Homo sapiens: one gene and its partners. The protein of the gene in region 7 purifies or fractionates together with the protein of the main gene of each other region. This does not show direct contact. Each region holds a gene or a part of one and is shown on either strand. Other genes may lie near its edges.

Evidence for each region.
Region 1: the proteins of YBEY (region 7) and BCAT2 purify together in Homo sapiens (co-immunoprecipitation; 3 studies listed by BioGRID and IntAct, with this or other methods). This does not show direct contact.
Region 2: the proteins of YBEY (region 7) and MTPAP purify together in Homo sapiens (affinity purification with mass spectrometry; 2 studies listed by BioGRID and IntAct, with this or other methods). This does not show direct contact.
Region 3: the proteins of YBEY (region 7) and IARS2 purify together in Homo sapiens (affinity purification with mass spectrometry; 2 studies listed by BioGRID and IntAct, with this or other methods). This does not show direct contact.
Region 4: the proteins of YBEY (region 7) and MTNAP1 purify together in Homo sapiens (affinity purification with mass spectrometry; 2 studies listed by BioGRID and IntAct, with this or other methods). This does not show direct contact.
Region 5: the proteins of YBEY (region 7) and ABHD18 purify together in Homo sapiens (affinity purification with mass spectrometry; 2 studies listed by BioGRID and IntAct, with this or other methods). This does not show direct contact.
Region 6: the proteins of YBEY (region 7) and MTG1 purify together in Homo sapiens (affinity purification with mass spectrometry; 2 studies listed by BioGRID and IntAct, with this or other methods). This does not show direct contact.

What each region holds. Positions count from the first base shown.
Region 1 is NC_000019.10:48,797,600-48,801,547, forward strand, and holds part of BCAT2 (branched-chain-amino-acid aminotransferase, mitochondrial isoform a precursor), read right to left. Parts: intron 2,699-3,948; coding exon 2,588-2,698; intron 2,502-2,587; coding exon 2,382-2,501; intron 2,240-2,381; coding exon 2,076-2,239; intron 1-2,075. UniProt on the Homo sapiens protein: Catalyzes the first reaction in the catabolism of the essential branched chain amino acids leucine, isoleucine, and valine. May also function as a transporter of branched chain alpha-keto acids.
Region 2 is NC_000010.11:30,346,187-30,351,077, forward strand, and holds the start of MTPAP (poly(A) RNA polymerase, mitochondrial precursor), read right to left. Parts: upstream 3,093-4,891; 5' UTR 3,090-3,092; coding exon 2,933-3,089; intron 1-2,932. UniProt on the Homo sapiens protein: Polymerase that creates the 3' poly(A) tail of mitochondrial transcripts. Can use all four nucleotides, but has higher activity with ATP and UTP (in vitro). Plays a role in replication-dependent histone mRNA degradation.
Region 3 is NC_000001.11:220,131,725-220,135,939, forward strand, and holds part of IARS2 (isoleucine--tRNA ligase, mitochondrial precursor), read left to right. Parts: intron 1-2,677; coding exon 2,678-2,786; intron 2,787-4,215.
Region 4 is NC_000017.11:73,238,703-73,242,917, reverse strand, and holds part of MTNAP1 (mitochondrial nucleoid-associated protein 1), read right to left. Parts: intron 818-4,215; exon of another isoform or gene 675-817; coding exon 567-674; exon of another isoform or gene 496-566; coding exon of another isoform or gene 486-495; intron 23-485; coding exon 1-22. Other genes in the region: CPSF4L (putative cleavage and polyadenylation specificity factor subunit 4-like protein), read left to right, coding at 486-495. UniProt on the Homo sapiens protein: Critical regulator of mitochondrial DNA (mtDNA) abundance. Binds dsDNA throughout the mitochondrial genome without sequence specificity and controls mtDNA copy number by promoting its replication.
Region 5 is NC_000004.12:128,017,117-128,021,331, reverse strand, and holds part of ABHD18 (protein ABHD18), read right to left. Parts: intron 3,970-4,215; coding exon 3,831-3,969; intron 1,253-3,830; coding exon 1,163-1,252; intron 196-1,162; coding exon 94-195; intron 1-93.
Region 6 is NC_000010.11:133,400,193-133,404,407, reverse strand, and holds part of MTG1 (mitochondrial ribosome-associated GTPase 1), read right to left. Parts: intron 2,880-4,215; coding exon 2,818-2,879; intron 2,260-2,817; coding exon 2,163-2,259; intron 1,717-2,162; coding exon 1,635-1,716; intron 1-1,634. UniProt on the Homo sapiens protein: Plays a role in the regulation of the mitochondrial ribosome assembly and of translational activity. Displays mitochondrial GTPase activity.
Region 7 is NC_000021.9:46,288,953-46,293,167, reverse strand, and holds part of YBEY (endoribonuclease YbeY), read right to left. Parts: intron 1,835-4,215; coding exon 1,706-1,834; coding exon of another isoform or gene 1,679-1,705; exon of another isoform or gene 650-1,678; intron 1-649. UniProt on the Homo sapiens protein: Single strand-specific metallo-endoribonuclease involved in rRNA maturation.

The DNA of each region.
Region 1 (3,948 bases), on a different chromosome or scaffold from region 7:
GAGTGCAGTGGTGCGATCTTGGCTCACTGCAACCTCCGCCTCCCAGGTTCAAGAGATTCTCCTGCCTCAGCCTCTCTTGACCTGGTGATCTGCCCGCCTCAGCCTCCCAAAGTGCTGGGATTACAGGCGTGAGCCACCGCGCCCAGCCCTCACCCATTTCATACTGACCAAATCCTCAGCTGTCATTCAAAACCATTTCTTTTTTTCTTTTTTTCTTTTTTTTTTTTTTGAGACAGAGTCTTGCTCTGTCGCCCAGGCTGAGGCTAGAGTGCAGTGGTGCGATCTCAGCTCACTGCAACCTCCGCCTCTCGGGTCCAAGCGATTCTCGTGCCTCAGCCTCCTGAGTAACTGGAGTAACTGGGGCATGCAGCACCATGTCCGGCTAATTTATATTCACATTTATATTTATATGCCCGCCTCAGCCCCCCAAAGTGCTGGGATTACAAGAGTGAGCCACAGCGCCCGGCCTTACTTTTTATATTTTTAGTAGAGACGGGGTTTCACCATGTTGGCCAGGCTGGTCTCAAACTCCTGACCTCAAGTGATCCGCCTACCTCGGCCTCCCAAAGTGCTGGGATTACAAGCGTGAGCTACCGCGCCTGGCTCCAAAACCGTTTCTGTTGTCACCTCCTCGAGAGGTGTTTCCAGACCTCCAGGCTGGGTGCTGGACCTTCCCTGGACTCCCCCAGTGAACTGGGCTACCTGGATGACTTTCTGAGTCTCTCTCCCAGAGATAGCCTCTCCCCTCAGCTGCTAACAAGCCTCCCATGGCTCCCCAGTGCCCCAGGACAAGACCCTAGCCTCCTTCCGGCATTCCAGGCCTGCCTGGGTCTAATGAATACTTGCTAAGCATTTTTCAAAACCCAAACTTATTTTTGTAACCTGAACATCTTCTGTGATCCTATTCCTTCTGTCCCTGTACACATGGTTCCCAGGACTGGAAACAGTTTGCTGACTTTTGTACCCAGGAAACCCCCTCCTCCCTCCTCGTCAGACCTAGTTGAAGGGTCGCCTCCTCTGCGAAACCTTTCTTTTTTTTTTTTGAGATGGAGTTTCGCTCTGTCGCCCAGGCTGGAGTGCAGTGGCGCGATCTCGGCTCACTGCAAGCTCTGTCTCCTGGGTTCTCGCCATTGTCCTGCCTCAGCCTCCTGAGTAGCTGCGACTACAGGCGCCCGCCACCAAGCCCGGCTAATTTTTTTTTTTTTTTTTTGTATTTTTAGTAGAGATGGGGTTTCACTGTGTTAATCAGGATGGTCTCGATCTCCTGACCTCGTGATCTGCCCGCCTCAGCCTCCCAAAGTGCTGGGATTACAGGCGTGAGCCACCGCCTCTGGCCTCTGTGAAGGCTTTCACAATGCCCTGGGTCACCTCACCAGAGAACATGCAGCTCCGAATACTGGGGCTCCCACCAGCCTGGGAGACCCAGGAGAGCAGGGCTCGGGGCTGACTCATCTGTGTCCCCAGCTTCTGCCAGCACAGGGCCTGGCCCTCAGGAGACCTCACAGGATGTGGCTGAAAGGACCTGAATGCACCCCCAGCTGGGGCCACATTCCTGTCCCAACACGCCAGTGCCCACCCTCTGCCTTGGTTGCCCAGGAGACCCAGCTGTCTCCTTCCTGCCCTGCTGAGCTGAGGCCACTGGGAGACAGATTTACACAGAAAGTCCACACGGGGGTGAGGGGCTTTGGAGGCTCAAACGACTGTGGGAGCTGGGTATGGGGAGCGCAGCCCAGCCTGGGGGATCAGGGGAGGCTTCTGGGGCGAGAAGCCAATGAGCTGAGTGTAAGCTTCACTCCTGGAGGCTTCCAGGGACCAGTCCTGGTTTCCCCACTGACCTCCACCCAATGCCTTCCCATCTGTGAGCCTTTTTGTCCATCTGAAAAATAATCCCCTCCTCCTTCCTTCCATGGTTTGTTTTCAGGGACCAGGGAGGTCACTTAGCACTGAGCCCTGCACGGTGCTGATGATGTCACCTTCATGTGACATCCAGAGGCATGGCCGAAAGCACGCACGCTGGTCCCTGTGTCTCCAACGCCCAGTGCGCCAGTCGTTCTGGGGATGGGGGTGCTACTTACCCACCTAACTTGTAGTTGCCGACCCCGCCCACCCAGGCCCGGATGAAGGCTGGGTCGGCCAGGAGGGAGACCGGGGTCACGGAGCCTCCAGGGAAGTAGGCACCCACTGGGCAGAGAATGACGAACAGGAGCGCGCGCGTGGGCTGGCTGACACCCAGCGAGGGCTGCGACGGGCAAAGGGACAGCGTCAGGAGTCCAGGCCCCCAGTCCCTTCCCGTCCCCAGGCCCAGGCCTCCAGGACCCCACCCCTGCCCTGCAGAATCCAACCCCCGCAGCCCAGCTTCCCAGCCCTGGAGTTGGGCCCACCTCGTTCCCAATGAGCACAGGCCGCACATAGAGGCTGGTGCCGGCGGCATCGGGGACCCAGTCCTTGTCCACTTCGATGAGCCGGCGGATGCACTCCAGCAACTCCAGCTTGTCGAAACTCTGGGTGGGATTCTGAATGAGTCAAGGGGCCCTTGCTGCCCCGGCCCCAGCCCTCCTCCCCACCCCGGTGGACCGGGACCCCTCACCGGCAGGCACAGGCGCATGGCTGAGCGCAGCATCCGGTCCATGTTGAGCCAGGGGCGGAAGAGGCGCACCTGCTGGTCTTTGCCTTTGAACGCCTTCATGCCCTCAAACAGCTGCGGGGACACGCGGGTGGGGAGGCTCAGAGACTTCTCCAGACAGTCATGAGAGACACCAAGACAGACAGAGACAGATACACAAAGACACAGACAACTGAAAGATGGAGGCCAAGAGGAGAGCACCGGGGAGATTTAGCAGCTGGGTCAGAGAGATGGAGAAAAAGAGAGACAGATATAGACAGGGAGACAAACAGGTAGAGACACACGGAGACTCTAGAAAGCAAAGGACACGACCGGGCTCAGTGGCTCACTGTAATCCCAGCACTTTGGGAGGCCGAGGCAGGAGGATCACTTGAGTGTAGGAGTTCGTGACCAGCCCAGGCATTATAGCAAGACCCCATCTCTACCAAAAAATACGAAAATTAGCCAGACGTGGTAGCACGTGACTGGAGTCCCAGGTATTTGGAAGGTGGTGGGAGGATCACTTGAGCCTGGGAGTTTGAGACTGCAGTGAGCCACGATCATGCCACTGCACTCCAGCCTGGGACCTAGTTTTTTTTTTCTGGAGACTCTGTCCCTGATCACTGCCCCATGGTTCCAAGTTTGCTTGTTCAGCATCTGCTCCACTGCAGAGTGGAAGAGCCTGGAAGGCAGGGATTACCCTTGACACGTTTACCAGACAGCCTCTCCTGCAGTCCCATGCACCAGGGTAGGCAGCGCTTGGCACAGAGTGTTTTTTTGTTTTGTTTTGTTTTGTTTTGTTTTGAGACAGGGTCTCACTCTGTCACCCAGGCTGGAGTGCAGTGGCGTGATCTCTGCTGATTGCAACCTCCGCCTCCCAGGTCCAAGTGATTCTTGTGCCTCGGCCTCCTGGGTAGCTGGGATTACAGGCGCCCACCACCACGCCCAGCTAATTTTTGTATTTTTAGTTGATCCACCCGCCTCAGCCTCCCAAAGTGCTAGGATTACAGGGGTGAGCCACTGCACCCAGCCAGACTTTTTTTTTTTTTCCCATAGTGGGTTTTTGATGAATGAATAGATAAATGAATGGAAGACAAGCAAAACTAGCTACAATATTTTGGGGGGATAAAAACCACCACCACAAAAATGAGGGGCAAGATGGGGCAGGGGCAGGGAGTAGCCATATCAGGTAGTAAAACATTATAAATCTACAATACTTAAAACAGAGTGACACTGCTATATGAGTGGACAGACTGAATAATGGAATAGATAACCAAATATCCATCTAGAGAAAAACTACGTTGAATCTCTATTTCACACCTCACACCAGAAAAAATTCCAGGTGC
Region 2 (4,891 bases), on a different chromosome or scaffold from region 7:
AACTTCTGGATTGAGGATAGGAAGAGAATGAATTCATATAAAGAACTTCAGGCCTTATTGAGACAAACGTTTTTAAAAATCCAAATTTAAGGGGTAATAACACTTCTTTGGTACTTACTAATCAGGCCACATATGGAGTACATGTTCTACTCTGGACATAATAGATAAGCCAGAGAGCATCCAGAGAGGAATAACAAAAAGTCTAGAAACTCTAATATACAATTACTACAGATAAAGAGAGGATTTACAGCCTGGAAAAAAAAAACTGTAAGAATCTGAGAGCTGAGCACTGGCTTTAAACATAATATAGCACCTTCTCTTAATAGTTTTCCAAGCACTGTCACATACACACTCTTCTGAAATTCACAATAACCTTTTAAGATAGACAGGGTAGGTATCACTGCAGGTGAAAAAAACTGCCCAAAGTCAAATACCTAATAAGCTGGGTAGCCTCCTGCAGTTTAGCTGTTGTTGGTTTGGCTGCTGGCATCCAAACAACAGCTAAACCTGTTCAGGTAACAGTTCTGGTAACAGCACACCCCTGCTAGTAAAAAACCACTCTATGTGGTTGTGGTGGAACTGTCACACTTATCCCCCACCCCATGAGATAGGGATTATCAGACTATTTTGGACACCTCCTCTTCATCCAAAGGGTGGGCATGTGATCAATCGGAAGCCGCAAGCATGTGAACGTGGAGCTGCTGGTGACCATCACCCCCATCATCAACATCCCATGTAGAAGAGCCCAAGATTATAAGGCCACCAAAAAACAGCTAAGGAAAATGAAAATATCTCACACTGACCACGTCAAACCAATTGACCTTAAAGTATGATATATGTCTCTTTCTGGAGTTTGGTTACACAGATTGGTATAGTCTCCCTTTTCTACTTAAGCTATTTTGAGTTAGTTTCTGTTACCTGTATCAGAAAGAATCCCGAATAATACACCATGTACTCTTATTGTCTTTCTACTACAGCTCTTTCCACTACTAACATGAAACCTATGTCAAAACTAAGACCAACCTGGAAATGGGAAATTAACAGATTTTAGCTCACTATAAATATTTTTCAACCATTAGAGGCTGACCAAAAATGGAATTGACTGATTTATGCAACAATGTTCCTTATTGCTATAAACTGGTAATGAATCCTCACACTGAATGAAAAACTGAATTGGATATTTCTCAAGTTCCTTCCAATTATAAAATCACATGCTTCTAGGTGAGTATAAGGTGTACTTAACTGTCCTTCTTTAAAATGGTAAAGACATCCAAATGAGGATTTTGTTATTTCCTGCAAGAATCCCTGAATATTTAGTCGTATTATTCTAATGACACAAAATGAAACATTTCCTTAAAAAAGAAAAATAGCAAAGCTACAGTAAATGAAGAGTATAGTCTTGGAATTAGAAGTGAGTTTTACTGGCTGGGCGCGGTGGCTCACGCCTGTAATCCCAGCACTTTGGGAGGCCAAGGCAGGCAGATCACCTGAGTCTGGAGTTCAAGATCAGCCTGGCCAACATGGTGAAACCCCATCTCTACTAATAACACAAAAATTAGCCAGGCGTGGTGCCACGTGCCTGTAATCCCAGCTACTCGGGAGGCTGAGGCAGGAGAATCACTTAAACCCGGGAGGCCAAGGTTGCCGTGAGCCAAGATCGTGCCATTGCACTCCAGCCTGGGTGACAGAGCAAGACTTCGTCCCGAAAAAGAAAAAAAAAAAACAGTGGGTTTTTTAATTTTTGCCACCGAATAGCTGAGTTTAGCTTGAACTACTCAAGCTACCCTTGGACTACCCTGTTCCCTCATCTATAAAATGGAGTAACAGTTATTTCCTTCCACACCTACGCTACAGGGTTGTTTCATATATCAAAGAGCATATGAACATACTCTCAAATTTAAACACCCATACAAATGTTAAATTACAATAGCTTTTTTGGCAGAATCCTTACTCAAATTTTCAGCGTTACTTAGAAATGTTCAACAGAAGTAGCTTCCACTAAATACAATCCAATCAATATTTGAATGAAATACATAAAGATTTCTCACTGCCTGCCAATGTAAGTCTTTTATACAGTCTGATAAAGACACCAGCTTATTTTAGGGAAAAAATAGCTCCAAGGAATCGTAGAAGTCAATACATTTTGTTTAATAATTTGACTAGAAGTCTAAATTAACTGAGCTAGTGACCTTGCCTAAGTTATTTACCTCTTTGAACCATTTTCTACATCTGTAAAATGGACACAGTGATACATTTCTTGCAAGATCGTTTTAAGAACTGTAAATAGAATACACAAGCTCTTGAGTCACAAGAGAGGTTCAATAACACTGGCTTCTCAATACACAAAGAAGCATATAAATGTAGAACGAACGCGGGACAACAGCCTGTTGCAGTGAATCCAAATCTGTTACCAGACTGATTTGGTTCAAAATGGCCAAAAAGAATAAAGTAAACGGCAGTACATTTCATAGACAGAACCCTATGTCTAGGAACCAAGAATCCTCTTGATTCATCAGGCTACAATATAACTCGGCCTCCAGCAACAACTTAATGTATCAAAATCAGAAATATACGTACACGATGCAGCGACTGGCTCAGGTGTGTAGCATTACTATCATTGGGAACACTATTTCGTCAAACTGTAAAGTGCAAGCAAACTGGGTTCCTGACCTGAATTTCATGGAAGTCTAAACAACTCCATTACTGTACACAGGAGTCGCCCCAAACAAACATCACACATCTCACTTCTGCCTCAGCAACGGCGGCGACCCTGGGTTCCCCTACAGAGATCAGAGGAGAGGAGAGGACAGGACACAGCCCCACCCTCTTGCCAAAGGGTCCACAGCCGTTTCCACAGGCCACGTGTTTCCCCGTGATCCCAGACTCCTCGCCCGCTGTGGGACGGAACTACAGGGCAAACCGGCGCCATCACCTGTCTCCACGCTCCCTGAAGGCTGCTCGTCTCTCCTAAGGTCTTTGGCCACAGTTCCTGGGCAACTCAAAAGCCTGACGATAGGCCGCTGGACTCGAGTTCTTCTCCGGGCACACAGGTTCAAACGGGTCAAGAGCCCCACGCCGGGAACCGCCATTGCTAAAAAAAAAAAAAAAAAAAAAACAGCACTAGCGCGAAGCTGAAAGGTCAGCGCGTTTTCGCGCATGCGTCGGGGGGGAGGGGGGGGGCAAAAGAAATGGGAAGCCTCGAGGGTCAAACTAGGCGAAAGAAGTTCGCTTTTAGAGGAAGAGAGGAAATTGAGGCCGGAAAGAAGATACCTAAGCTTTCAGACATGGTTTACTTCCACAGTCACACAATTTACCAAATGAAAAGTTCCATAGAAGGAGCGCTCCACCTACTCTTGTAAATAGCATCATGAAAATAGAACCAGAGCCCGGGCGCGGTGGCTCATGCCTGTAATCCCAGCACTTTGAGAGGCTGAGGGAGGTGAATCTCCTGACGTTACGGGTTCGAGACCAGCCTGGCTAACATGGCGAAACCTTGTCTCTACTAAAAAATACAAAAAAATTAGCTGGGCGTGATTACATGCCTGTAATCCCAGCTACTTGGGAGGCTGAGGCACGAGAATCACTTGAACCCAGGAGGCGAAGGTTGCAGTGAGCCGAGATCGCGCCACTGCACTTAAGCCTGTGCAACAGAGCGTGACCCTGTCTCAAAAAAAAAAAAAAAAAAAAAGTTAAAATAATGGAAAGGCTTTTAACCTCTCTGAAAGGGGCACCAGGAGCAGGCAGGGCATCATCATCTTCCTTGAACCATGTGAGGACATTTTACAACCTCTGCCAATATGCCTCAATTCAAATTAAAATTCAAGTGGTTTTGCCAGCCCCTCCTCCAAGTGAGAGGTACATACCTCATCTTAAAGCCATACGAAAGGCATTGGAGAGGACTGGTTCAGTCTTCTCATTTTGGACATGAGAAAGTGGGGCACAGATCAGACAACGACTGGCTATAGGTCACACCTGGGGAGTCAAAGTTTAAAGTCAGAGCTCTGCCCTTGATTCAAGGCTCCTCCTCAGTGCCTGTGTCATAACCAGTGGCCCTTGCTCGGGTGCCTGGGAAAAGGACATACGAAACAGTGCAAAGAAGCCTGCAACTGAAGGCAGCCTCCCCGGGGGAATACACTGCTGCTGGAGGCGAAAGGAAAAGCAAGGGGCCTCGCAATCGGAGCGTGAGAGAGGACAAACCAGCACCGGAACTGACTAGCCAGCTCTGTGTTAGCATGGTGCTATTGCCTTGCAGGTATTTTCCTTTTTAATCATCTCAACAAATCTGAGTGATTAAACCCATTTCATGGATGAGAACACGGAGGCTTAGAGACAGTAAGTAACTTGTCTAAGGTGGCCTCATTAGAAGTTGGCTGTGCTGGCTGGGTGTGGTGGCTCACGCCTGTAATCCCAGAACTTTGGGAGACCAAGGCGGGAGGATCACCTGAGGTCAGGAATTCCAGACCAGCCTGGCCAACATAGCGAAACCCTGTCTCTACTACAAATACAAACATTAGCCAGGTGTGGTGGTGGGCACCTGTAATCCCAGCTACTTGGGAGGCTGAGGCAGGAGAATCACTTGAACCCAGGAGGCAGAGGTTTCAGTGAGCCAAGATTGTGCCACTGCACTCCAGCCTGGCAACAGAGCAAGACTCTGTCTCAAAAAAAAAGTTGGCTGTGCCATTTGACCCCAGGTCAGTCCCCAGATCCTGGGCCTTCCACTCGGACACACACTCAAGGCCACCCTCAGGCCACACAGAGTCCTGCCACTCCCACATGGATGTTGAAGAATCTCAAAGTTAGATAGAAGTATATTTGATTTTGATACTTCCAAGGAAAGTCCTGCGTAAGCAATGAGTTTGGGGATGGATGTGAGGACTTTTTAATTTTTGTG
Region 3 (4,215 bases), on a different chromosome or scaffold from region 7:
ATCAGCGCTGCTCAGCCTCCCAAAGTGCTGGGATTACAGGCATGAGCCACGATGCCTGGCCACGTTGAATTTTTTTTTTTTTTTTTTTTTTGAGATGGAGTCTCACTCTGTTGCCTAGGCTGGAGTGCAATGGCACGATCTCAGCTCACTGCAACCCCCGCCTCCTAGGTTCAAGCAATTCTCCTGCCTCAGCCTCCCGAGTAGCTGCGACTACAGGCATCCACCACCATGCCTGGCTAATTTTTTGTATTTTTAGTAGAGACGGGTTTCACCATGTTAGCCAGGATGGTCTCGATCTCCTGACCTCATGATCCACCTGCCTTGGCCTCCCAAAGTGTTGGTATTACAGGCATGAGCTACCGCAAGTGGCCTGTTGAGGATTTTTGTGTCTTTGTTCAACAGAGATACTGGCCTGTAGTTTTCTTTTTTGTTGTGTCTTTGCCTGGTTTTGGTATCAGGGTAATGCTGGCTTTGTACAGTGATTTAAGAAGAGTTTCCTCCTCTTCGATGCTCTGGAGTAGTTTGAGCAGAATTGTTGTTCTTTATATATTTGGTAGAATTCAGCAGTAAAGCCATCTGGTCCTAGACTTTTCTTTGTTGGGAGATTTTTTGTTACTTATTCAGTCCGGTTACTCCTTACTGTTCTATTTCTTCCCGGTTTAATCTTGGTAGGTTGTATGTGTCCAGGGGTTTATCCATTTCCTCCAGGTTTTCCTATGTGTTAGTGTACATTTGTTTATAGTAGTCTGTGATGATCCTTTGTATTTCTCTGTTGTCTGTTGTATGTCACCTTTCTCTCTCTTTTTTTTTTTTTTTTTTGAGATGGAGTCTTGCTCTGTTGCCCAGACTGGAGTGCAGTGGCCTGATCTCATCTCACTGCAAACTCCACCTCCCAGGTTCAAGCAGTTCTCTGCCTCATTCCTCCCAAGTAGCTGGGGTTACAGGTGCCCGCCACCATGCCTGGCTAATGTTTGCGTTTTTAGTAGAGATGGGGTTTCACCATCTTGGCCAGGCTGGTCTTGAACTCCTGACCTCGTGATCCACCCGCCTTTGCCTCCCAAAGTTCTGGGATTTTACAGGCGTGAGCCACCGCACCCAGCCCCATGTCTCCTTTTTCATTTCTGATTTTGTTTATTTGGATCTTCTTTTCTATTTTCTTAGTCTAGCTAAAGATTTGTTTTCACTGCATATGCATTTACCTTCTTACATTATCTCAGACTTTCCTGGCTGCACAGACTAGATTAAACTCTTTATTTTCCCCTTGGTAACACCCATCACAGTTATTTCTTTTCTTTTTTTTTTTTGAGACAGATTCTTACTCTGTCGCCCAGGCTAGAGTGCAGTGGCACAATCTCTGCCCACTGTAACCTCCACCTCCCAGGTTCAAGTGATTCTCCTGCTTCAGCCTCCCAAGTAGCTGGGATTACAGGCGCCCACCACCGTGCCCAGATAATTTTCGTGTTTTTAGAGATGGGGTTTCGCCATGTTGGTCAACCTGGTCTCGAACTCCTGACCTCAGGATTTGCCAGCCTCCACCTCTCAAAGGGCTGGGGTTACAGGCACGAGACACTGCACCCGGCCCCATCACAGTTATTTCTTGCTTAACATAAAATCTACCCTACTAGGTGTCAGCTCCAAGAAGGCAGAGTCCAGATTTCCCCAGGGTCTAACACAATGCCTGCTATATAACAAGTGCTCAGTAATATTGGTGCAATTGAATTGGTTTGATTCAGTTATTTAAATTTTGTTTCCCCACCTCCACTCAGTTAATCTTTCTTACATGAAGATTACAACACTAAATTTTCAGTCTTAGGACATAAGGACAAATCATAATTTTACAAATAAAAGGGATTATGGGGGCTTTGAGAGTTGTGAGTTTAGATTTAAAATATAGATGTAATCTTTATCAACGACCTCATGTTACTTTTTTTTGAAAACCCTTTTATTTTGAAAAGTCATAAAGTATCATGAAGAATTACAGCATGCTCTTCATCTAGATTTCCCAACGTTAACATTAACATTTTGCTACAGTTGCTTTATATATCCTATGTATATATATGTAGAGGAAAAGATGCATCTTTTATCTCAATATTTTAGTATATATTTCCCCAAAACATGGATAGTCTCTTAACATAACCAACACAGATATCAAAATTAGGGAATTAACATTGATTCCATACTGTTAACTGTCTATAGAACTTATTCCTAGGTGGAAAGAGGAAAAAAAAAAAAGGACCCAAGATCTAATCTGAGATCACATGTCACATTTAACTGTCATGTCTCTCTAGTTCTTGTTCTGTGTCTTTCATGACATTTCATGACATTGCTTGACATTCATGCAGTACAGGTTTATTTTGTAGATGGTCTCTCTGGGTTTGTGGGATGCATTGTCATGATTAGATCCACGTTATGCATTTTAGGTAGGAATATCACAGAAAGGATACTGTGTTTATTTCAGTACATCATTTCAGAAGTCACGTGATACATCTCTGTCCCATTACTACTGGTGATGTGTAACTTTGGTCACTTTCTTGGTTAAGGTGGCATCTGTCAGTTTTCTCTATTGTAAAGTTACTTCCCTTCCTCCCCACTAATTGTTATTAATAAGTATCTTCTTTTTCTATTTTAATTAACTTAAATTTCTGGGTTTTTTTTTCTTTTAATACTTAATTTTGAGGTCCTGACCAAAGAGCAGATTTGTACTTGGAAGGAAAAGACCAGCTCGGGGGTTGGTTTCAGTCATCCTTATTAACAAGTGTGGCAGCAAGGAAGAGAGCACCTTATAAGTAAGTATTTATGCCTGAACCAACCTGCTGAGTACCTGCCAGTGTGTGAAGCACTATGCTGAGTACTACAGAGATGATAAGGCACCACTCTTGATTGCTTACAGTGTCCTGTAAGAATTTGAAGTAAAAAAAGAGAAAGGAAAAAGGAGACAACACCAAGGTGTCTTGTGAGTGTGATGCAGATCATAACTCTTTGAAGAAAAAGTCAGCATTGACTGGAGTAGTTGGGGGAACTTATGTAGTTCTTTGTTGTTGTTGTTTTTTTTTTTTTTTTTGAAAAAGGATCGCATTCAGTCACCCAGGCTGGAGTGCAATGGTGTGGTCAGAGCTCGCTGCAGCCTCCGTCTCCTTGGCTCAAGCAATCCTCCTGCTTCAGCCTCCTGAGTAGCTGGGATTACAGACATGCACCACCACACCTGGCTAATTTTTAATTTTTTTTTAGAGGTGCGTTCTCCTCCCATTGCCCATGCTGGTCCCAAACTCCTGGCCTGAAGCAGTCCTCCTGCCTTGGCCTCCCAAAGTGGTAGGATTATAGGCGTGAGCCACCATGCCTGGCCTAGAACTAGATCTTGATCTATGGTAAAACTTGACTAGGAGGAATGTAGGGAAGGATATTCAAGGTTGAGAGAAGACAGCCTGAGTGCAGATGTCCTTTATATTTGTAATATCCACAGTGGCTAGTGAACTGAAACATTGCTTTCATGAATTTTATTAAATTAGGTATTCTCATTTAGTACACATAATTACTTTTTCAAACGTGTGGGTGAAAGTACTAATCAGAAAGATTCCTAAATAGCTTAGCTTAAGATTGTGGCTCTCTTAGGATAAAAACCCATCCCAGAACATTTCACATGTTTCTTTTTTTTTTGAGATGGAGTCTTGTTCTATTGCCTAGGCTGGAGTGCAGTGGTGCGATCTTGGCTCACTGCAGCCTCTGTCTCCCGGGTTCAAGCGATTCTCCTGCCTCAGCCTCTCGAGTAGCTGGAATTACGGAGCATGCCACCATGCCCGGCTAATTTTTGTACTTTTAATAGAGACGGGATTTCACCATGTTGGTGAGGCTGGTCTCAAACTCCTGCTCTCAAGGGATTCACCCTCCTGAGCCTCCCAAAGTGCTGGGATTACAGGCGTGAGCCCCCACGCCTGGCCCTTTTACATGTTTTTGTTTCTTAACATGCGTTTTAAAGACCAGTAAAAGGGCAGATCCTATTTTTTTCAAATTGTCTTTTGAAAATAATTTTGAGATGATAATCTGCTCTTTTTAAGACATACTTTTTCCTGGTTTTATTTTTTCATTTAAAATTTTTTTTTTTTTTTTTTTTTAGTGAGTTATATAGTTTTTCCGCTATCACCACAAGAGGTTTTATAACATTTCCAACACACTAAAAAGTTTTCTCATGCCCATTTGTGACTAATCTCCACTCCCACC
Region 4 (4,215 bases), on a different chromosome or scaffold from region 7:
GTGGTGTTGCACCTGATCCAGCCTGTTCAAAAGGAAACACGGCTTGTTGTTACAGCAACTGAAACTAGGGCCAGTATCCGCGAGTCATTCAAGTTTTCCCAGTTAGCCTGAGTGATGGAACTGTAATTCAGAGATTTACACGCACATATTTTAAACACATAAAGGCTAACATCAAAGAACCTTAACTTGACTAGATTCAAATTAGTTACTCTTGTTTTGGGTGCTTGGTTAAAATCTTTAGTGGGAGGAGGCTAATACAACTGGTTAACTTGAGGTTTAGAGTTTTTCTGGCTTTGGGAGGAGGCACAATCAATGTGGGCAAGGGAAAGTTGGGGGTAGGTATTAAAAAATACAAGCTGTTGAATAAATGGTAGCTGTTATTAGCTTTGGTGCTTTCAATTATGTCCAACTCCAAAATGAACACAGACAAATGGAAAACTAGGAAGACAACACACATTTTAACATTTTTTTCCTCTCCTCTTTAGCCTTGCTTAACAGCCCGAAGAGAAACTTTTCCAAATGCCCAGAACCTGCAACAGAAGACAACAGTCAAACTCCAGCCTCACCTTTTTGTACAGCTCCCAAGAGCCTCATTAGAGAGAAGTTGGAGGTTGTAAGTCCGGCAGGGGGTTCCAAACTCCTTATATGAGTTGAGCTTCGTTCCAACAAAGAAACTATGGTTCCAAACAGAAGTCACTGTCATTGTTTACCGAAACGTACCCCCTTCCCTAACATCCAGTGCCGAAGGATCCACGGCTAAGCCTCAGGAAGAGCATATTCTAAACAGGTGCATTAAAGATTTCTGCATTGGACTGCAGCTAAGTGTTGAAAGTCAAATCAATTACAGGTTGAAAAAATGTTTTTCAAAAGGCCAAGGGACCCCTGAAAATCAGGGCGTCTACTTGTTTTTTGGTCTGCTGAGTACCCTGGCCAGGTGATTGATGCGCATGTGCTTCATGAAGTGAGTCTCTTACATCATCTTTTTGTTTTTGACACAGTCTCACTCTCTCGCCCAGGCTGGAGTGCAGTGGCATGATCTTGGCTCACTGCAACCTCTACCTCCTGGGTTCGAGTGATTCTCCTGCCTCAGCCTCCCGAGTAGCTGGGATTACAGGCACACGCCATCACGCCAGGCTAATTTTTGTTATTTAGTAGAGACGGGGTTTCGCCACTTTGGCCAGGCTGGTCTTGAACTCCTGACCTCATGTGTTCTGCCCGCCCCAGCCTCCCAAACTGCTGGGATTATAGGCATGAACCACTGCGCCTGGCCTCTTTTACATATTCTATCATCTGCTAAACATGTCAGCTAAAAGCGTGACTTTCTCCTTTTATGATTGTGACTTGCCCACAGTCAACATGCCTGTTCTATCACCCTATCGCTATTATTGGCCAGCAAACATTTCCTATTTATGTTCAGTGCATGAATAACTTAAGCAGAACCAGAAAAGAGGGCTTATGCAGGCCGGGCGCGGTGGCTCACGCCTGTAATCCCAGCACTTTGGGAGGCTGAGGTGGGTGGATCACGACGTCAGGAGATTGAGACCATCCTGGCTAACACTGTAAAACCCCGTCTCTACTAAAAAACAGAAAAAATTAGCCGGGCGTGGTGGCGGGCGCTTGTAGTCCCAGCTACACGGGAGACTGAGGCAGGAGAATGGCGTGAACCCAGGAGGCGGAGCTTGCAGTGAGCAGAGATCGCTACACTGCACTCCAGCCTGGGCAACAGAGCAAGACTCTGCCTCAAAAACAAAAAAAAGAGGGCTTATGCTCCTTAATCACATTTCTCCTGTACATGGTTTTCTCCATGTTTTATGACAGGTAATCTCTACTACTGATAGTTCTCTAGTCTTGGTTTGGTTCATCAAGATAAAGAAGAAATTAAACACCGACAACAGGTTTAGCAAGTGTGGTAAAAGTTGCTGTGGATGTAAAAATATCCAAATGATCATTAAAGAACAATGAAAAGAATCATGCTGGCTTCCAAGAAATTGCACAGAAGATAATTCTCTTGCAAGGTGAAGGTTAGTCTCTTAAAAAAAAAACCCATTCATCTTGGAAAAAATTTGAGGAAAACGGTGTAAAGAGACAACTTCCTGAAAATTGCAACCATGTTGTCAGCAGTGTCAGGATCACGTGGCTCCCTGACCTTGCCCTGCTTTCTCCAGTCAGGTGAGCCTACTGTCCTGACCTGCAGTTAATTCAGTAACTGTTAGCTCACTGGCCCTGCCTTTTAAGTACCAAAGGAATGAGTTGGCTTCCTGAGAAGGGCAAATGACCTATCAAAGGTCTTGCCTGAGTGAGAAAAGGTATAGCCCATTCTCTTGTGCAAAGATTCCAATAAAACTCTAATTTGCAGTCATTGGAGACAGTCATTGCCTGGTGAAATTACAAAGCTTTTTAAGGAGCCAATGGCACCATCTTTTAATCCCTATAGATTGATATGGCCTTGAAGTCCTTGGCCAATGGAGGGATCAGGGCTTGACCTGATCCTAGGGTCTCTCTCCTCTAGTATCTTGTGTTCATTTGGTGGTAACATCAAAGTCTGAACACTGATCCTGGATCCAACTTCAATAGTTTTTCAGTTTATAATAGAAGTAGAGGCCCTATGATGATTACACCTTATTTACTGTCTTGATGTAGAAGTCCCAAACTAAGTACAACATTTATTAGTTACAGACTATGAGCAATAAAAGGGATTAAAATAGTTTCTCACCACTATTTGGAAGGAACTTGTTACTGAAGAAAAAATTCTATTTTCCCTCCTATATCCTGTCTCATAACCTTGGTAATTTAATGTTTTAAGTTACTGTATCTTATTATTGTATTCTTAGGAGCTAACAGTGAAATGTATCAATAACATATCAAACAAGGTATTGACTTCTATCTGTGGTCTTTAAACTCTACTTGAGGCTTACTGTTTGGGAGAGTTAGTAGTTAATACCTCCAGGTTCACCTGACTCTTCTATCTGTGGTCTTTAAACTCAACTTGAGGTTCACTGTTTGGAATAGTTAGTAGAGTCAGACGAACCTGGGTTTGAATCCTGATTCTGTCACTTACTGCATGAACATAGGGAAGTCACTTAATGTCTGAAGCTCAGGCCAGGCCTGGTGGCTCACACCTGTAATCCCAGCACTTTGGGAGGCCAAGGCGGGAGGATCACCTGAGGTCAGGAGTTCGAGACCAGCCTGGCCAACATGGCAAAACCCCATCTCTACTTAAAAAAAAAAAAAATTAGCTGGGCGTGGTGGCAGGCACCTGTAATCCCAGCTACTCTGGAGCCTGAAGCAGGAGAATCGCTTGAACCTGGGAGGTGGAGGTTGCAGTGAGCCGTGATTGTGCCATTGCACTCCAGCCTGGGAGACAGAGCAAGACTCTGTCTCAAGAAAAAAAAAAAAAGATGTCTGAAGCTCAGATTCCTCAAGAGGAATAAGAGGGTGGGACAGTGGTGTCACTCAGAGCTGTTATGAGGATTAAATGACATAATGTATCTAGCATAACGATAGTCATAGTCATCACAGATAAACGTCAGGTCCCTCACTTTTTCCTCTAAAATGAAAAGTGTGTATCAAGGACACTCCTAAGCACTATAAAATGTAGTACAGAAAATACACAAGTCCTTCAATTTGGTAGAGAGATTTATCATGGGGGGAGTGTGTGCATCTGCAACTGAAAAACACAGAAGGCTGGACACGGTGGTTCACACCTGTAATCCCAGCACTTTGGGAGGTTGAGGCGGGCAGATCACCTGAGGTCACGAGTTCAAGACCAGCCTGACCAACACGGAGAAACCCCATCTCTACTAAAAATACAAAATTAGCCGGGCGTGGTGGCGCATACCTGTATCCCAGCTACTTGGGAGGCTGAGGCAGGAGAATCGCTTGAACCCAGGAGGCAGAGGTGAGCCAAGATCACACCACTGCACTCCAACCTGGGCAATGAGCAAAACTCTGTCTCAAAAAACAAACAAACAAAAAAACAAAACACACACACACACAGAAAAGTATGGCACTATAACAAACATGGTTTTAGTTATGGTGTATTTTCTACAACATGGTTTAGTGGAAAAGATTAAACTAGGCCTCAGGAAACTAGGTTCTCCTTGCAGCTCTACTATTTATTGGCAACACAAACTTGGACAAATCACTTATGCTCTCTGTGCCTGTTTCATCATCCACAAAATAGGATAAATTCACTCTGCCCACCTCTCTGTCCAC
Region 5 (4,215 bases), on a different chromosome or scaffold from region 7:
TAAAAATTTGCTATTCTCTTTAAAAACCTGAATCATTAAATATACAATCAACTCCCCCCACCACCAATGTTGGGTGGAAAGTGAAATACTTACTCCACAGTATTCAAGCATGTGAATAATTTCTTCTTCATAAACTGTCTGGGTATAATATTGCTTTTCCAGCTCCCTCCAATTAATTGATTTACTCAACACACCCTGAAATAATAAGCTAAATTAAGATCAAACCACATCATAAGGCAATTTGCCCAATACTTTTATTATTATTACTGTGTGAGACTACCTTTTTTTTTTTTTTTTGCAGACGAAGTCTCACTCTGTTGCCCAGGCTGGAGTGCAATGGCACTATCTCGGCTCACTGCAACCTCCACCTTCTGGGTTCAAGCAATTCTCCTGCCTCCGCCTCCCAAGTAGCTGAGACTACAGGCATGTGCCACCACGCCCAGCTAATTTTTGTATTTTTAGTAGAGACAGAGTTTCACCATGTTGGCCAGGCTGGTCTTGAACTCCTGACCTCAGGTGGTTCACCAGCCTCAGCCTCCCAAAGTGCTGGGATTACAGGCGTGAGCCACCGCACCTGGCCTAAGACTTCCTATCTTTAGCCTGCTTGTAAGGTTGGCCCTTAACTGGAGTCTGGGAACTTGACCAGTAAACAGCTTTCTATACTTATATAAAACTTTTCCTAAATGATAAGAGTGGGTCACTGTACCTAAACTGCTTATATAAACAATGCGGTTTCTGCTGAACACCTGCTTTCCTTCTGAATTTTTGGTGCATGCTAGGCAGAAGTTATCTAAGTCACTAACCCCTGATAAAAACTCTGGACTGCAAGGCTCAGGGGAGCTTCACTGATGGACAGCACTTTGCACTTATTGTCAATAATTATTGTTGGAAGAATTAAGCATGAACTGTAACACTCCACTAGGAGAGGACTCTTGGAAGCTTGTTCTTGGTTTCCTTTGGACTCTACCTCATGCGCTTTTTCCTTCTGTTGACTGTGTTGTATCTTTTGCTGTAGTTAAGGCTTAATCATGATTACGACTATATCCTGAGTCCTATAATTCTTTCTTTGAATCACCAAAGCTGAGGGTGGTTTTGGGGACCCCCCCAAAACAATTACCTCTAATTATATATAGCTACCTAATATTAATTACAATTAAATTACCGTAGTGAAGACCCCAGATGCTGTGGACCAAGACAGGCATGGAATCAATGGCATGGGCTTAGGCCAGTTGGATACCGCTAAGGAAGCCATCTGTAATATAACAGATAGAGAGCGTCTATTTAGAGTTTCTATTCATTAAAATAAAAATATTTAATATTAATAAGCATTCCGTGCAGTAAATAGTTGGTCAGATAAACACAAAGTCTGCAAACATTCGTGAGAATGTCTAGCCACCTCATTAAATTCCCCAAATCATAAATTCAACATTTAATTTCCCCCTTAGATAGCAATAAAATGTAATACAAAACTTTAACCTCAAGACCATTCGCTGAGAGCTACTTTCTACTGTGTAAATATGGAGCAAAGATGCTGAGATGTAGATGCTGGGCAGCAGGGTAAACACACTCATTACTTAAGTGACTTGCCAGATAGAGCAAAATCACAACTATAAAACATCAGACCATTGAGGTTGACTGAGTATGCCAAGAATTTGGTGAACTACAAAGCAGATTATATAATAGATCTAAAATAATGTAATGTGTGTGATTAGAGAAGGTAAAATCACTCTCCCTTTTGGAGAAGGGAAAACTTTATCTTTTCAAAAAGTTACTTTCCCTTCTGGGCTGGAGGAATCAGAAGGGAAAGGCAGGCTTCATGAAATGGATGAGTCTTCTAGAGGAATGAAAGATAGGGTCTTGTCTTCCAGAGAAAGAATCAGTATGATCAAAGGCAAGACTGTGAGAATGCACAGGGTCTCATAGGGAAACAGCCAATATACTTCAGTTGGGATGGTCAATAGGCACACATGGCCAATGGAGTGAGGGAGGTAAGTAGGGCTAGAAAGATTGATCAAGATCAGATTAGAGGTCCTTTGTTCTATAGATAATCGGGAATTAATAAAGAGGTCTGAGCAAAGGAGTAGTATTGTCAAAGAAGTGATTCAAAGAAGGTAACATGATAGTAGTTTACAGGATTGAATAGAGAAGGGGAGAACTGAGGTAGGAGACCAGTTAATAGGCAGTAATCCAGGTGAAAGTTATAAGGACCTGACCTAGGTGATAACAATGGAAACACTACTAGGTAGGAAAATAAATCCTTTTCCATCTTTTGTTTCACTGTCAGGTAGTTGTTTTGAATTTTTTTTTTTTTTTTTTTTGAGATGTAGTCTCACTCTGTTGCTCACGCTAGAGTGCAGTGGTGCGATCTCAGCTCACTGCAACCTCCGCTTCCTGGGTTCAGGCGATTCTCCTGCCTCAGCCTCCTGAGTAGCTGGGATTACAGGCACGTGCCACCACACCCGGCTAGTTTTTGTATTTTTAGTAGAGACGGGGTTTCACCATGTTGGTCAGGCTGGTCTTGAACTCCTGACCTCAGGTGATCTGCCCGCCTCGGCCTCCCAAAGTGCTGGGATTACAGGTGTGAACCACCGTGCCCAGCATAGTTTTGAATTTGAGTAAGTTTTTGAGCTTAATTTTCTAATTCAAGAGGCATACAGAAACTTCATATAATAATAATTATTACTTTGAGATAGAATCTCGCTTCTGTCTGGGTCACCTAATCAGGAGTGCAGTGGTATGATCACAGCTCACTGCAGTCTCAAATTCTGGGGCTCAAGTGATCCTCCCACCTCAACCTCCCATGTAGCCACAACTACAGAGATGTGCCACCATGCCTGGCTAATTTTTTAAACAATTTTTTTTGTAGAGACAGGGTGGGTCTTACTACTATGTTGCCTAGGTTGGGGTATTATTATTTTTTAGGCCAGGTGCAGTGGCCCACACCTATAATCCCAGCACTTTGGGAGGCCAAACTGTGTGGATCACTTGAGCCCACACACAAACAAAATACTAATAATTTTTTAAAAATGTACTGAGTGACTAATATGTGCCAAGTAATAAACCAGAGCATATTCCTGGCCCTCAATATCTCAAATGCTTCATGGAGAAAACAGACTGCTAAACAAGTCAGTAAAGTACAGTAAAAAGTTACTAATCAGAGTTTGAAGTATAGTCTGGAGGTAAGGCTGGGTGTCACAGCTGAAACAGAAGGGTAAGCTGTTACTCCTAGGTGAAAGAGAATAAGGGAGCACTAGAGAGATGCTAGCACGTGACACAGCTGGAGCCCAGTGTGCACGCAAGCTTTTGGCAGGTTTTGAACAAGACAGAACAAAGACTAGATTTAGAAAGATCACTGTAGTTAGGGTGTGGAGGAGAAATGGTTAAGACAAAGATTAATAAGAGAAAAGACTAGAGACAGAGAAAGCAATTAGGAATCCATTTTAGTACACTCTAAAAGGCAGACAAAAAGTAAAATAGGTTAGTGGTACTAGGGAGACAGATAAATGGAAAGTATTTTCCAATTCAGCTATCTTCACCAATGTAACAGCAAAATTGGGCATTTATACTTGAGACTTGAAAAGTTAAATTTTATAATTAATTTCTGTTAAATCTAATATCTGAGATACAACTGTGGAGTAGTACAATCAATAAATCGTACAAAAAATTAACATCATTACTTCATAATTGGAGTAAGAGTTTGGAATCTGTTTCTGCTTCCTACTTTTACTAAAACTAATTCTATACCTAAAGTGAATTTTTAAAATAACCAGGTTCTCTAGATCTTACAAACATAAACATAATTAAATGTAAGCAGAAATAAAAAGGCTTACGTGTCCTCCCATGGATATTCCAGTCATTCCTAAAGGGCCGTAACCTTCCCTCTCTAGCCAGTGCAAGAGAGCTGCAGATTCTAAAACAAGAGCTCCTCCCATCACAAAAAGGTCGGACACATTTTTTAAGCTGGACCTTCTAGCCTCACAAAACAAAATAGAAAATGATTATTTTATGTATTTACATGCTAATATATGCAAATTTACAACAGGCTGCCAGACTTCATGCATCTCTTCTAAAGGACCAGATAGTTAAGTAAAACAATGTAATAAATTGGAATTAGGGCCAGGCGTGATGGCTTACGCCTGTAATCCCAGCACTTTGGGAGGCTGAGGCAGGGGGATCGCTTGAGGTCAGGAGTTCAAGACAAGCCTGGGCAACATG
Region 6 (4,215 bases), on a different chromosome or scaffold from region 7:
TGCCTATAATCCTAATGCTTTGGGAGGCTGAGGCGGGCAGATCCCTTGAGCCCAGGAGTTCAAGACCAGCCTGGGCAACATGGGGAAACCCTGTCTCTACAAAAAATACAAAAATCAGCTATGTGTGGTGGCACACGCCTGTAGTCTCAGCTACTTGGGAGGCTGAAGTGGGAGGATCGCTTGAGCCCAGGAGGTCAGGCTGCAGTGAGCTGAGACTGTACCACTGCACTTCAGCCTGGGTAACTGAGACCCTGTCTCAAAAAAAAAAAAAAAAAAAAGATTAAAACTTAGCAATAAGGAAAGAAACAACTCAGTTAAAAAAAAAAAAAGGGAAAAGGATTTGAACAGACATTTCCCCAGAGAGGGATGACAAATAAGCACATGAAGATGCTCAACGTCCCTGTCATCAGGGAAATGCAAATTGAAATGCTATGCGACACCCCTACACGCCCGCCCATCAGACAGGCCAAAGTTAAAGACTGATCTTAGAGAAACTGAAGGACTCATTCCCTGCTTGCCAGCATATAAAACAGTGTAACTACCTTGGAAAACAATGTGGCGGTTTCTTAAAAACTCAAACATATGCCTCCCCTATGATCCAGCCACTCTACTCCTAGGTATTAACCCAAGGGAAACGAAAGCCCGGATCTACACAAAGACCTGTCGGTACATGAATGTTCACAGCAGCTTTATCTGCAATAGCCAAAACCTGCAAACAACCCACATATCCATCAACGGGTGAAGGGACAGACTGCAGCGCACCTGGACACTGAAACCGCCTGGCAACAAAAAGGATGAATGACGGACAACACACGACGACACACGGGGATCACACAACAATCGTGCCGAGTGACAGATCAACAAGAATGCACATCCTGTGTGATTCCATCTACGTGGAATTCTAGAAAACCCAAAGCAACCTACAGGGACAGTAGACGGCTGCCTGGGCTCAGGGAGGGGCAGGAAGGTGTGATCACGAAGGAGCACAGGGACTGGGGGTGACGGGAACGCTCATTTCCTTGATTTCACGAAGGAGGAGCAGGGACTGGGGGTGACGGGAACGCTCATTTCCTTGATTTCACGAAGGAGGAGCAGGGACTGGGGGTGACGGGAACGCTCGTTTCCTTGATTTCACGAAGGAGGAGCAGGGACTGGGGGTGACGGGAACGCTCGTTTCCTTGATTTCACGAAGGAGGAGCAGGGACTGGGGGTGACGGGAACGCTCGTTTCCTTGATTTCACGAAGGAGGAGCAGGGACTGGGGGTGACGGGAACGCTCGTTTCCTTGATTTCACGAAGGAGGAGCAGGGACTGGGGGTGACGGGAACGCTCGTTTCCTTGATTTCACGAAGGAGGAGCAGGGATGGGGGGTGACGGGAACGCTCGTTTCCTTGATTTCACGAAAGAGGAGCAGGGACTGGGGGTGACGGGAACGCTCGTTTTCTTGATTGTGTGTTGCTTTCACAGACGTATAGCCATACTCCCGAACTTGTCCAACTGGACGCTTTAAACGATGTGCAGGTTACCGTGTTTATAATACCTTTATAATGCTGGGGGTTTTTTTGTTTGTTTTTTTTTTTTAAATGAGGTGACTAGGAGGAGGGGCCCCAGCTGCCCTGCATTCACTGCACTCACCCAAAGCGCTGGTGTTTGTTGAGGGTGTACAGCAGGTAGTCAGCCATGGTCTCCTCCCCGACCAGGTGGTCCAGCACCGTTCCTGTGGAAGCAGCAGCCGAGGTGAGCACTGGAAACAGCCACATCTATGTTCCTGCCAAGTTCAAACACATCCCTTCCAGTCCTAGCCCAAAGACACCGTGCCGTGAGGAAGAGGCCAGCCACTGACAAAGACACTAACCAAGAGGACGGCACTCGGCTGTGGTCCCGGCCCCCACTCCTGCCTGGCACCTGCGACCAACCTCTCTGCCCTGGTCCGTCAAATGGGGAAAGGGAAGGCCACTCATGGGGCAGGGTGGAATGGTGACCAGTGCCTGTCAGCTGTGCACTATTACAGCTCTCACACTAAGCTTCGAGGAAGGTCTGGCAGCAACCAGGTCAAAGGCAGTAACAACTCCCGTCTAGGGGCCCTGTGCCAAAGCCAGCCCTAAAGGTGGGGTGGCAGGGGCCCCGGTCCCAGCCCCAGCCCCAGCCCCAGCCCCGGCTCACCACACAGGGCCAGCTTCAGGCCTGTCTCCACACTTTCAATCCGAGGAGCCAGCACGCCAGGAGTGTCCAACAGGAACATCAGGGGCCGCTCAGAGACCTGTGTGGGCACAGAGGGCATGATCAGGCCGCGGTGGCAGCCTCCCACCCAGGTGGGCCACTCAGGAAGCCTGGGCAGCCCCTGGCACCCAATGCTCCGAGGAAGGCCTCAGGGACCCAACCCCATGGCAGCGTCACTCTCACCAAGCTCCAGGGTTCCCCAGAGGATCTAATTCCCACTTAATTTGGAGAATAAATAAAAGCGTCAGGTCCCAACAGCTTGTCTTCTGCTCCCAAGGAGAACACAAGGAAGGGAGTGGAGGGTGGGGCGGGGGGCGCCACACTCAGGTCTGTCCTGACCACTGCATGGCCCTGGACAGTGGCCTCCTCATCTGGAAATGGGGAAAACAGCGTGCCTTCCCCAAAGGTTTGGCGCAAAGACTATGACGACTGTGGAATAAGGGCAGGGGCAGTGCCTGCCCCGGGGGTGCTCAGCGGGGACACTGAGTGGAGGGGAGGGAAGCGTGGTCAGCAGCCGGAAGCCACACAGAGGTCGGCAGGTGCCAGACGCCTGCAGAGCTCTTGACAGAGTGCTGGGCCTGGCCCCTGAGGACTCCACCTGAATTTTGGACATCACAGCTCTGGTGATCCCAGGCTCGCCACCCACCCTGGTGGCTTTCCCTGTAGGAAAAGGAGAAAAGGAGGCTCAAATGTATACTAAACACAGAAGCTGCAGAACAAGTAGGGAGACGTATGTAACAAACACATCTGACCAGCCAAGCAGGGAGACTATGTAACAAACACAACTTACCAGCCAAGCAGGGAGACTATGTAACAAACATATCTGGCCAAAATGGAAACTAAAAGCCAGATGAGCTTCCCAAGGCTATAATTTGTTTCACTTTCAGTCACAAACCAGCTCACAGCAAGGGCACTTTCCAAGCCACACAGAGACTGAGATTCTTCAACAAATGCACCAGAACCTAACTCCCCAGGACTGGAAAGGCACTGTCAGACTGCGGAGGTCAGACCTGAGCTGCTCCTTCCACGCAGTCCCCCACCTCCCTCCTGGACCCACCCCTGCACCCCAAGGTCAGCCTGCCTCCCACAGCACTGTCCACAGGCGACTGGCTGCTCTAGGACCCAGCTCAGGGTGTGTCCCAAGGAGGCCACTCCACTGTGGACAAACAACCCAAGAATAAAAAACACAAGTGTCCATCCAGATGAATGGACAAGACAGGATGTGGTCTGTACACACAACGGGGTGATCAGCCTTAAAAAGGAATAAAATTCTGACACTCAGGACAACACAGACGAACCTTGAGGACATCACGATCGGTGACATCAGCCAGTCACAAAAGGCCAAGTACTGTGAGTCCACTTGGAGGAGGCAGTTACAGTCATCGAATTCACAGACAGAAAGTGGAACGAGGGGTGTAGGAGGCTGGGGGAGTGACTCTTTGTATTTACAGAGTTTCATTTTCAGGTAACCAAAATATTTGAAAATAGTGGTGCTGGCTGCATAACCCTATAAATGCACTTAATACCACTGATAAAAAATAATACGCTTAAAAATAAACTTAAAAGAATAAATGACTGTAACAATGCTCCAATTAGCACCAAAAACACCCTCTCTGTAAAATAACAGTTCACCGTAGTTTAAAGCCTTCAGATTTGCACATCATGAATGGGTTTGTTAATAAATGCCTTATTAATATGAAAAATGAAGCCAACAAGGACTTGAATTAAACTTGAAAATACTTAAGGAAAAGAGCCCACGGGGCAGTGAAGGGTGCTCGGGGCTCCTGCTTTGAATCAGAGTCTGAGAACAGGCACAGAGGGAGGAAAGGAGCGCCTGCGACTCCGGAGTCCAGGAACCCTCCAGCAAAGGCAAGGCGGACGCCATGGAGGAATGGCCTTGCAGCCTCCCTGCCTGATAATCCAGCCCCGTCTACTTCACACGCTTTGTATTCTCTGGATCAAAGGGATTTTTTTTCTTTTCTTTTCTTTTTTTTTT
Region 7 (4,215 bases):
TAATCTAGAGTTTAACTTGTGTGGCTGACTCCACTGAGTCCCGGGCACGGGTCAGGCTAACCGCGGGAGGAATTTAATCTAGAGTTTAACTTGCGTGGCTGTCCCCACTGAGTCCCGGGCACAGGTCAGGCTAACCGCGGGAGGAATTTAATCTAGAGTTTAACTTGTGTGGCTGTCCCCACTGAGTCCCGGGCACGGGTCAGGCTAACCGCGGGAGGAATTTAATCTAGAGTCTAACTTGTGTGGCTGTCCCCACTGAGTCCCGGGCACGGGTCAGGCTAACCGCGGGAGGAATTTAATCTAGAGTTTAACTTGCGTGGCTGACTCCACTGAGTCCCGGGCACGGGTCAGGCTAACCGCGGGAGGAATTTAATCTAGAGTTTAACTTGTGTGGCTGACTCCACTGAGTCCCGGGCACGGGTCAGGCTAACCGCGGGAGGAATTTAATCTAGAGTCTAACTTGCGTGGCTGTCCCCACTGAGTCCCGGGCACGGGTCAGGCTAACCGCGGGAGGAATTTAATCTAGAGTTTAACTTGCGTGGCTGTCCCCACTGAGTCCCGGGCACGGGTCAGGCTAACCGCGGGAGGAATTTAATCTAGAGTTTAACTTGCGTGGCTGTCCCCACTCAGTCCCGGGCACAGGCCAAGCTAACCACGGGAGGAATTTAATCTAGAGTTTAACTTTAAATCAAGAATAGTAATCATCCCTCCCTAAAACGAATCCCCTCCTTGCTCAAGACCGAAGCCACCTCTGTGAAGCTTGTGAAGGGCCACAAGATTAGGATGATGGGAGGGGCCTGAATTCTGCTCAGATGTAGGTGTCCTGAGGAGAACCAGCCCGCAGGCCTTGCTTCCCCAGCTTGCCCTGCTGTAATTCCCTACTGCTCAGGACTCACGCAGCCAGAGGTCACGAGATTTGTGACCGCCCCAATTGCTCCCCAATAAGATAACGTCAATAGTACAACCTAAGAATGGTCTTTTGGGATGTTTTTCAGACTTTTGAGTTCTGGCAACCTACAGACTCCACCTGGACCTGAGACTCATGACTCAGCTGATCCCGTGGCTCCACGCAGAGGCGGACTCAGGGGACAAAAATCGTTGACACCCCATGGTCCGTCTGCAGCCGATCAGCAGCAGGCATTCCCTAGCCCCTGCCTGCCAAATTGCCTGTAGAAACTGTAGCCTCTGAGTTCTCTGGGAGATTGAGTTGAATAATAACTCCAGCCTTTCTGCTTGGCTAGCTCTGTGTTAAACTCTTTCTCTACTGCAATACCACAATTGCAGTGAATTGGTTTTGTCTGTGCAGTGGGCAGGAAGAACCCATAGGTGGATTACACTGAGGAGAAACAGATCTGGAAGGTGGTGGAGGCTCCAACTTCTGTACTTCTGGCAGCTCAGAAAGAAGCTGATTCAGCAGGTCTGTGTTAGCTCAACATAGTCTGCTCTACTCCAGAGATAAAAGCTGAGAAGGCTTCTCTGGGAGCTTCTGTGTTTTCACAGCGTGTTCTCTCCCTCCTTCAACTGTGGCATGGGGCATGCAGTCCCTACCCAGCCTGGGTGCTCCTCACACCCTGCTTACAGGTTCTTCCCCCAGTAGCCCTTACGGTACCCACGGACACACATGGATGCAGGGTTGTGATCTTGACCCCTTTGCAAGGCCCATGTTCCATGAGCCAGGTTATATGATTTCAGCATCCCCGCTTACAGTCAGGACGTCATTGTAATCTTCATTTTCTTTACACTGATGGAAGATATACTCCACTCCTAGGAAAATGTCTCCCAAATTGTAGTCATCTGGAAAATCAGGCTGGGGAAATTCACCTGCTTTCAGATGCTAAAAAATGAGGAAATGTAGACTTAGAGAACAGGAAACGTAACCCAACCACAGGTTGACAGGTTTCATCCTGGTTAATCCCAAGGCAAATAAGCACTTATCTCTGAGCCAAATCACTTTTTTTTTTTTTTTTTTTGAGACGGAGTTTCACTCTTGTTGCCCAGGCTGCAGTGGAATGGCGCGATCTCGGCTCACTGCAACCTCTGCCTCCCGGGTTCAAGTGATTCTCCTGTCTCAGCCTCCTGAGTAGCTGGGATTACAGGTGCATGCCACCGTGCCCAGCTAATTTTTGTATTTCTTTTTTTTTTTTTTTTCCTGAGACAGAGTTTCCCTCTTGTTGCCCAGGCTGGAGTGTCCGCCTCCTGGGTTCAAGCAATTCTCCTGCCTCAGCCTCCCGAGTAGCTGGGACTACAGGCATGCGCCACCACGCCCGGCTAATTTTGTATTTTTAGTAGAGACTGGGTTTCTCCGTGTTGGTCAGGCTGGTCTCAAACTCCCAACCTCAGGTGATCCACCCGCCTTGGCCTCCGAAAGTGCTGGGATTACAGGCGTGAGCCACCGCGTCTGGCCTAATTTTTGTATTTTTTAGTAGAGATGGGGTTTCATCATATGGGTCAGGCTGGTCTCGAACTCCTGACCTCAGGTGATCTGCCTGCCTCAGCCTCCCAGAGTGCTGGGATTACAGGCGTGAGCCACTGTGCCAGCCACCCAAATCACTCTTAAGATGCATGTCTCAGGCCAGAGTGGCAGCTGGGCCTGTGGCGGGTGGGTTGCCCAGCCAACCGTACACAAGTGCCCTAAATTGTTTCCATTGTGAAAATTGTCAGAATAGCCAGGCGTGGTGGCTCACAGCTGTAATCCCAGCACTTTGGGAGGCCGAGGCGGGCAGATCAAGAGGTCAGGGGTTTGACACCAGCCTGACCAACATGGTGAAACCCCATCTCTACTAAAAATACAAAAATTAGCCAGGTGTGATGGCACATGCCTGTAACCCCAGCTACTCGGGAGGCTGAGGCAGGAGAATCGCTTGAACCTGGGAGGCGGAGGTTGCAGTGAGCCCCTAGACTGCGCCATTGCACTTCAGCCTGGCTGACAGAGCAAGACTCCGTCTCAAAAAAAAAAAGGAATTTGTCAGAATAAAAATGGAGCCATTAGGGTTATACAAACAAACCAAAAAACCTGACAAATAGAGCTGGGGAAAGCTATGAAGAGAGGATTCTCATACTTCCATGCCTGATAACAAAAACTGTCACTAAAGATGGCAAAAACTGCAACAAAGGCTATGACAACCTTACACACATACAAAACTGCAACCTTGCACAAAGGCTATGACAACCTTACACACACACACGAAACTGCAACCTTGCACAAAGGCTATGACAACCTTACACACACACAAAACTGCAACCTTGCACAAAGGCTATGACAACCTTACACGCACACAGAAACTTCTGCAAGGATAATCTGCCCAGCAACTGCCTGTCTAACCTTGGACGGACATTAATCTTGTTATTGATCTTTGCAACCAAGGATCATTATCTCAAAACAATTATGTTTTTTTCCTTTAAAAACCTTTGCCAGGCGGGGCTCAGTGGCTCACGCCTGTAATCCCAGCACTTTGGAAGGCAGAGGCGGGTAGATCACCTGAGGTCAGGAGTTCTAGACCAGCTTGGCCAACATGGTGAAACCCCAACTTTACTAAAAATACAAAAAAAAAAAAATTAGCCAGATGTGGTGGTGGGCGCCTGTAATCCCAGCTACTCGGGAGGCTGAAGCAGGAGAATCGCTTGGACCTGAGAGGTGGAGGTTGCAGTGAGCCGAGATTGTGCCATTGCACTCCAGCCTGGGTGACAGAGCAAGCCTCCGTCTCAAAAAAAAAAAAAAAAACAAAACCCTTGCCTTCCTTTACCTCCCTGAATATGCGAATATCCACACAGTCTACTATGGCATGTGGCATGTATTTTCACTGCAATGCTCTATCCCAAATAAACATCCTTTTCTTTAAAAGCCTGTTTGTTTAGGTTGCTATCACCTTGTCAAATGGCTTTTCATTTCTTTCATCCCTCCCAATGCAGAATCACGCAGATCCACAACTTCTACAGAGTTAAATCATCACATGGACACGACTGTATATTCCTGTTCTTTCCACTTGGTATTTTGTCCTAAAGAGTCTTTCACATTTTCCACATAAAGACTATAAAGACCAGTCCACTTAGTTAAGGACTGTTCACACTAAGCCAGTCACCTATGGCTGGATATTTAGGATGCTCCTCTTATTTTCCTATTACAGAAAATGGTAACTTTTTTTTTGAAAAAGGGTGTTACTCTGTGGCCCAGGGTGGAGTGCAGAGGTGCAGTCTTGGCTCACTGCAGCCTCAGTT